Linked DNA regions of Homo sapiens. The protein of the gene in region 2 purifies or fractionates together with the protein of the main gene of each other region. This does not show direct contact. Each region holds a gene or a part of one and is shown on either strand. Other genes may lie near its edges. The genes, in order: RRP15 and NOPCHAP1.

Region 1 (3,829 bases), on a different chromosome or scaffold from region 2:
GAAGGGATATCTCCTAGGACCTTCTAACCTGAATTGTTATCAAGTCTTTTGTTATAAGTAGATGGCCATTTTTCACATACATAACAAGAACAATTCAGGCTTTTTAGCTGCCTGGAAAACCTGAAATGATATTCCTTATTGTTTTATAGTCATATGGGCACATTCTATGAGGGAGGAGTCAATCAGATCACAGCCCCGAGTAACAATCAAGGCTTCTTTTTTTTAACCTGGGTTGATTTACAGACAACAGACGCTTCCCCCGCACCCTGTCCCAAGACTACAATCTTAAGAACCTAGTTAGAGTTGCATCTTAACTTCCATAAATCTGAGTAGCTCAAGGATAACTCAGAGGTAGGGGCTATCATCTTACCCTTTATCATACTTGATATCATCAACCACTGTTATTTTTTCACCTGAGGTGATTTACTGACTAGGAAGACTGTTTTTCTGTTTTGGGGTTTTTATTGTTTTAAGACTACAAGCTTAAGAACCGAGTATATATTGTATCTAAACTTCCAACAAGGTATCAAGTCAATAAATTTGAGTAGTTCAGGGATAACTCAGGTAGGGCCATCACCTTCCCCTCTATAACACTTGTCATTTATATATTACTTAAAATGCAGACTGTAGCACTTTACCTTCTGTGATACTGTGAAATATCTATTTGGTCAACTCCTAAAATCCTTGGAATCTCCAAAGGAGTATCTTCTTGTATGCTAATGATTGAGGGCTGGTAGCCCCAAGGCAGCTTCAGGATCAGGGCTGGTCACCAGATGCACCAAGACAGGAATAGAAGTTTGGGACTTTCAGCTCCATTCCCCAACCTCTGGGAAGGGAGGGAAGCTGAAAGTTAAATGAGTCACCTCGATGATTTAATCAACCATGCTTATGTAATGAAGTCTCCATAAAACATTAAAAAAAAAACAGGGTTCAGAGAGCTTCTGGATAGCCGAACTCCTGGAGGTTCCTGCAGGACGGCACACCCAGGGAGGGCATGGAAGCTCCACACACCTTCACCCTATACTTCACCCTATGCATCTGTTCATCTGTATCCTCTGTAATATGCTTTATAATAAACCCATAAACTTAAGTGTCTCCCTGAGTTCTGTGAGTTGCTCTAGAAAATTAATCGAACCCAAAGGGAAGATTATGGGAACCCCAATTTTAAGTCAGTTGGTCAGAAGTTCCAGAGGTCTGGATTTAGGACTGGTATCTGAAGGGTTTGGGCAGTCTTATGAAGCTGAGCCCTCAGTCTGTGGGGTCTGACACTACCTCCAGGTAGATAATGTTGAAATGAATTGGAGAGCAAACAGGTGGTATCCACTGCAGAATTGATTACTTGCTTAGGGTGTGAGAATGAATCCATACACATTTAATCACAGAAGTCTTCTGTGATGATTGTTGCTGTTGAGTGGCTGAGTGAGAAAATAGAGAAAAGCACACTGAGTGGTGTTTTTTCCACATTCACCGGCTGTATATCTCTAATTCGTGATCCCCTTCAATTTTATTATGATCAAATTTCAAATCGTACTGACAGTACTGCAATTCACCAAAAATTCAATCTTAGTCATTTTGCTATTATTCAAGTTGATATATATAACTGCTAATTTCACCTCCATGATAATCTAGTATATGAGAAAAGAGTATTAAAAAAATCATGTTAAGAGAAATTTCCAATTTATTCAGTGAATAAATGGATATCAAGTACTACACCATGAATCAGGCTCTATGTCAAACTGAGATATAGCTGTCCTCACAGTAACAAGGTCTCTGTCCCCATGGAACTTAGGAAACTTCTGCAGTCTAACAAACAATACTTGAGTTTTGAGTTTTGTTCTCATGAAAGCACACTCTTCTACTTTTCTTATACAATATGTGAAAAGAAATTAAAGCCAGAAAAATAAAATTCAAACAACATATGGGTTATATCTGGGTTTTCTATGAAACTCAAGTAGCGTCTTACTAAAGGAAGTTTTTCAAATGTCGATATAGGGCACATCCCTATCAATTTTTATAATCCAGTTAAAATTCAAAGATAAGTGCCTGATTCAGTTTCCTGATAAAACAAGTCAGTACTCTTTAAATATATCTGTAATTTACACACTGATTCCTCATAGGTCTGAAGACTCTGCCTTTATAGTTTCTCAGTACTATCATATAAAAGTTTTTGATAACTTAATAGTTTAACCAAGACCACATGTATACAACTACCTGACTAGAAAATCCACCTCCATGGGTCACCTTTACAGAAATACTTAATTTCATGAGCGGAAAACAGCAATTTCTTATATTAAATAGCAAATTCTGAGTTAAGCCAAAGAAGAATTGTCCCATCTTTAACCAACAGACCTATATTACTAACTGTATTAAATAAAGGACTCTTTAACCAGGCATGGTGGTGTGCACCTATGGTCCCAATTATTAAAAGGCTGAGGCAGGAGGATTGCTTGAGCATGGGAATTGGAGGTTACAGTGAGCTATGATCATGCCACACTGCACACCAGCATGGGCAACATACCAAGACCCTGTCTCAAAAAAAAAAAAATAAGAAAAAAAAGTTTTAAAATAATAAGTAAAATATATGATCCTTTATTATTTATCTATATTGCAGAGATAGGAAAATTTGTAAAAGACAAAGTGGAGGAGACATTTAAGTTGAAACCTAAAGGATAGAGAAAAGCTGGTTAAGAGAAAGTAAAGAATAAAAAGAGTATGCCAATAGAGTACCATAAGCACGACTAGAAAGACAGAGAGCAGACTGTATTCCAGAAACTAGTTCAGAATGCTATGACCCTAGTCGTCTAGGGAATGACAAGATGTGAGCCTGAGAGGCAAGCAGTGGTCAGATCACACAGGTTGGGTATGCAGACTGTTGCCAGTTTACAAGGAGATTCAGTCAGTCAATCACTGTTATTTGTGGATTCTGTATTTGAGAATTCACTAACTCAGTAAAATGTATTCGTAACCCCAAATCAATACTCATGGCACTTTTGCAGTCATTCACAGACATGCTTAGAGCAGTGAAGGGTTGGAGTCTCCCTACATGCACACTCCTAGCTGAGGCTGAAGGAGACACTCTGCCTTGTTTTAACTTTCTCATTGTAAACTGGTGTTCTTCCTACAGCTATTTAGTGCCACATTTTTTCCATTTCTGTGCTTTTTCTTGGCTACAGCAATGTTTAAAATGGCCCACAAGCATAATGCTGACGGGTTGTGCAGTGTCCCTAAGCACAAGGATGCAATGTGCCTCTCAGAGAAAATATGTGTTGAATAAGCTTTTTTCAGGCACGTTATTGGCCATCCATGAGTTCAAATGTTAATGAATCAACAAAGTATATTAAATATAACTATTATTATCCACTTCCTCTAACAGTACAGTATGCCCAAAATGTATGGTGCTATGAGTTTGCATTAAAGTTTGTTGTTTGAAAAATTGAAGGCTGGGTGCAGTGGCTCATGCCTGTAATCCCAACACTTCGGGAGGCCGAGGCAGGAGGATCACTTGACCCCAGGAGTTTGGGAACAGCCTGGGCAACAGAGTGAGACCCATCTTTACAAAAAATGAAAAATTAGCTGGACATGATGGCACGCACTTGTGGTCCTAGCTACTTTGGAGGCTGAAGTGGGAGAACTGCTTGAGCCTGGGAGGTTAAGACTGCAGAGAGCTCTGATTATGCCACTGCACTCCAGCCTAGGCAACAGACCAAGACTTTGTCTTAAAAAAAAAGGGGGTGGGGAGTGGGGGGCCAGCCGCGGTGGCTCACGCCTGTAATCCCAACACTTTGGGAGACCAAGGTGGGTGTATCATGAGGTCAAGAGATCCAGACTA
Region 2 (3,829 bases):
GTCTGTCTCTCTGTCACCCAGGCTGGAGTGCAGTGGCATGATCTTCGCTCACTCCAACCTCCACCTCCTGGGTTCAAGCGATTCTCCTGCCTCAGCCTCCCAAGTAGCTGGGATTACAGATATGCACCACCGCATCTGGCTCATTTTTATATTTTTAATAGAGACAGGGTTTCTCCATGCTGGCCAGGCTTGTCTGGATTCCTGACCTCAGGTGATCCACCCACCTTGGCCTCCCAAAGTGCTGGGATTACAGGTGTGAGCCACCATGCCTGGCCTTTTCTTACATTTCTTATCACGGTCATGGATACAGGCAGAGTAACACAAACTATCCTGCTAGGCAGTTTTTAAAAATAAGTACCATATTTGATGCGCAATTAAAATGTTATTGGAACAGATGGGAGATTTATTCAGAATGAGATTTTTGCTTCAAAAGCCATTACACCTAATTTTCGGATCTGTAACTGTCACAGAGCCATAGAAAGACGGTACGCCACAAGTTTGAAGAGAACATTTCACTCATTTTAGGAGTGCAACTGCTCTCCAAATGCCAAACTGCCATCAACTCACACCTAAGCATCAGGGTAAGCAAAGAGTTGGACAACCAAAGCACAACAGTGATGCACTTTCCACACACTGTAGGGCAAACTGCTTACAAACAAAACAACTTTTATATAAGGCCATAACATACTGATATGTTTTGGCTGTGTCCCCACCCAAATCTCATCTTGAATTGTAGCTCCCATAATTCTCACGTGTTGTAGGAGGGACCTGGTGGGAGGTAACTGAATCATCGGGGCGGGTCTTTCCTATGCTGTTCTCATGTGAATAAGTCTCACCAGGTCTGATGGTTTTATAAAGGGGAGCTCCCCTACACAAGCTCTCTTGCCTGCTGCCATGTAAGACATGACTTTCTACCCCTTTACCCTCTACCATGATTGTGAGGTCTCCTCAGCCATGTGGAACTGTGAGTCCATTAAACCTCCTTTCCTTTATAAATTACCCAGTCTCGGGTATGTCTTTATTAGCAGTGTGAGAACAGACTAATACGCATACATACAATAAAGTCCTCAAAAGTTACATTTACAACTCCATTAGCCTTTACATATGTATGAGTGGTGGTAACTCTTAGACTAGTAGCTAACACAGAAAGGGCTCAGTAAGTACCAGCTACTGTTGCATCTGCCAATTTGACAGGTGAAGAATGCAATCCTGATTTCATTTGCATTTCTCTGATAAATGGAGTTGACCCTTTTTCTGTGAATTACTTCTTCATTTCCTATAGTCTTTTCACTACTGAGATATCCGTCATTTTTTTCTAAAATGTAAAAGCCCATGATATATTAATGACACTCTGTCATGTTTCAGATATTTTCCCCAGTATTTCCCTTATCTTTTGAATTTATTTGCAACACACTAGTTTTTAATATTTATGGGGATGAATTTTCCACTCTTTTCCTTTGTAATTTTAGGCTTTGATGTTATGCTTTTTAAAAAAAAAAAAAAAAACCTTTCTTGACTATTTTACTAAATATAAACCTGCATTTCGGTATGGAACTCTTATAATTTCTTTTTTTACATTTAAATCCTTAATCCATATATAATTTATCTTTGCATATGATATGAGGCTAGAGAATCTAATCTTGTTTGAAATAGCTGGTTCTGACATTATTTATGAATAATTCATCCATTTTACCAGATTATACAAGTAGTCTTATCCATGGGGGATACATTCCAAGACCCCCCAGAGGATGCCTGAAACATTTGATAGAACAGAACCCTATACACACTGTTTTCAATCTGAGAATCCAGATGGCTGCTAAGTGACTAAACGGTGGGTAACATATACAGCGTGCATAAGCAGGACAAAAGGACAATTCACATCCCAGGCGAGACGAAGTGGGACAGCCTAAGATTTCATCACATTATTCAGCAACTTAAAACTTATGTATTATTTCTGGAATGTTCCATTTAATATTTTTATATTGTGATTGACTATGGGTAGCTGAAACCATGGAAAGCAAAACTGACAATAACAACTGTACTTGAAATTACATCTTCATATTCTCCTGCCTGGAACCGTCTATGATAGCTTAAAGTCTCCTGTATACCTTCATGCATCCATTTAATCCATTTATTATCATTATTCCATGCCTACTGTGCACCACACACTATGCTAAGTAGTGAAACAGACAAATGCAACTGTTCACACAAGGTAGCATAGCATCCAGTGGAAGAAAATCTTTAAATAAGTACCTATGCCAATAACTCATCACGGCTGTGTACAGTTCTGGTGTACTCTTTCCAGCTGAAAAAATCTTGTTTCAGATCTGCTCATTTCTTTACACATTTAGCGAGTGAGTCACAGTCAAGGAGAGCTGGTTCCAATTTCCAATAAGAAAGATCAGAAAGGACCTGGATAATTATCTTCACAGCAATCACAAGAAGACTCAGGCCAATGTGAAGAATTGGAAAGAACAGAATTCAAAGAAAACCCGAAAACATTAGCAGACAAAGTTCCATCAGCTCTGCCCACTCACAGATAGTCCTTAAATTCTCAGGCCTCTTTCCTGAGCAAAAGTCAGGCTCATGGCAGATGAGATCCCAAATAAACTTAATAAAACCAAGAATAGGGCAGAAAGGCAACTCCAGCCTGAGGTCATTTTGACCTTTGGAAGGGAAAACCAGCTGTCGCCTTTCTTTGTACTATGCCCTCCAAATTTTGCTGTGATGTCCCTATTTTCTACATTTGATAGGTTTCAGGCTGTGGGCAACTGTGTGGAACAGTTTTAATAGCTGAGATAAGAAGTTTTGCTTTACAAAAAAAAAAAAATCAACTAAAAACTGATCTTTCCAACCAGTAAATTCTGCATGCATTGTATGACTGCACTGTCACCAACAGTGATTACACTACAAGCATCAGTTTTCCAACTCAAACTAGAAAGGAATTCTTAAAATAAAAATAGGTATGTTTGAGAATAGCTAAATACAGGTGACACTTGAACAACACAGATTTGAACTGTGTGGGTCCACTTATACATGGATTATTTTCAATAAATATATTTTTAACATTTTTGGAGATTTGTGACAATTTGAAAAAATTCACAGATGAACTGCATGGCTTAAAAAAAATTAAAAAGTTAGGTACGTCAAAAATGCATTAAATATATGTAGATACCAGTCTATCTCATCATTTCTACCATAAAAAATATATAAATCTATTATAAAAAGTTAGAATTTATCAGCACTTACCCACACAAACACTTATAGACGGTACCTAGTACCATTTGCAGTTGAAAGAAATACAAACAAATGCAAAGACACAGTATTAAATCATAACTGCATAAAATTAACTCTAGTACTGTAATAACTTTGTGGTCACCTCCTGTTGCTATTGCGATGAGCTCGTGTTGCAAGTATCTACTCACGATACCATGTGACACTAATCATCTCTGTGTGAACAGTTCCTCTCTGCAGTAAATTGCCTATCACAGTAAAAAGTGATCTCTCGGCTGGCTGGCAAGATGGCCAAATAGGAACAACTCCGGTCTGCAGCTCCCAGCGAGATCAACGCAGAAGGCAAGCGATTTCTGCATTTCCAACTGAGGTACCCAGCTCACCTCATTGGGACTGGTTAGACAGTGGGTACAGCCCATGGATGGGGAGCAGAAGAAGGGTGGGGTGTTGCCTCACCTGGGAAGCACAAAGCGTTAGGGAACTCCCTCCCCTAGCCCAGGGAAGCCAAGGGAAGCCAGGGAACTCCCTCCCCTAGCCAAGGGAAGCCATGAGATACTGTGCCGTGAGGAACGGTGCACTCCGGCCCAGATACTAT

The links.
Region 1: the proteins of NOPCHAP1 (region 2) and RRP15 fractionate together in Homo sapiens (co-fractionation; one large-scale study listed by BioGRID). This does not show direct contact.

The regions. Positions count from the first base shown.
Region 1 is NC_000001.11:218,291,745-218,295,573, reverse strand, and holds part of RRP15 (RRP15-like protein), read right to left. Parts: intron 1-3,829.
Region 2 is NC_000012.12:105,013,664-105,017,492, reverse strand, and holds part of NOPCHAP1 (NOP protein chaperone 1), read right to left. Parts: 3' UTR 1-3,829. UniProt on the Homo sapiens protein: Client-loading PAQosome/R2TP complex cofactor that selects NOP58 to promote box C/D small nucleolar ribonucleoprotein (snoRNP) assembly. Acts as a bridge between NOP58 and the R2TP complex via RUVBL1:RUVBL2.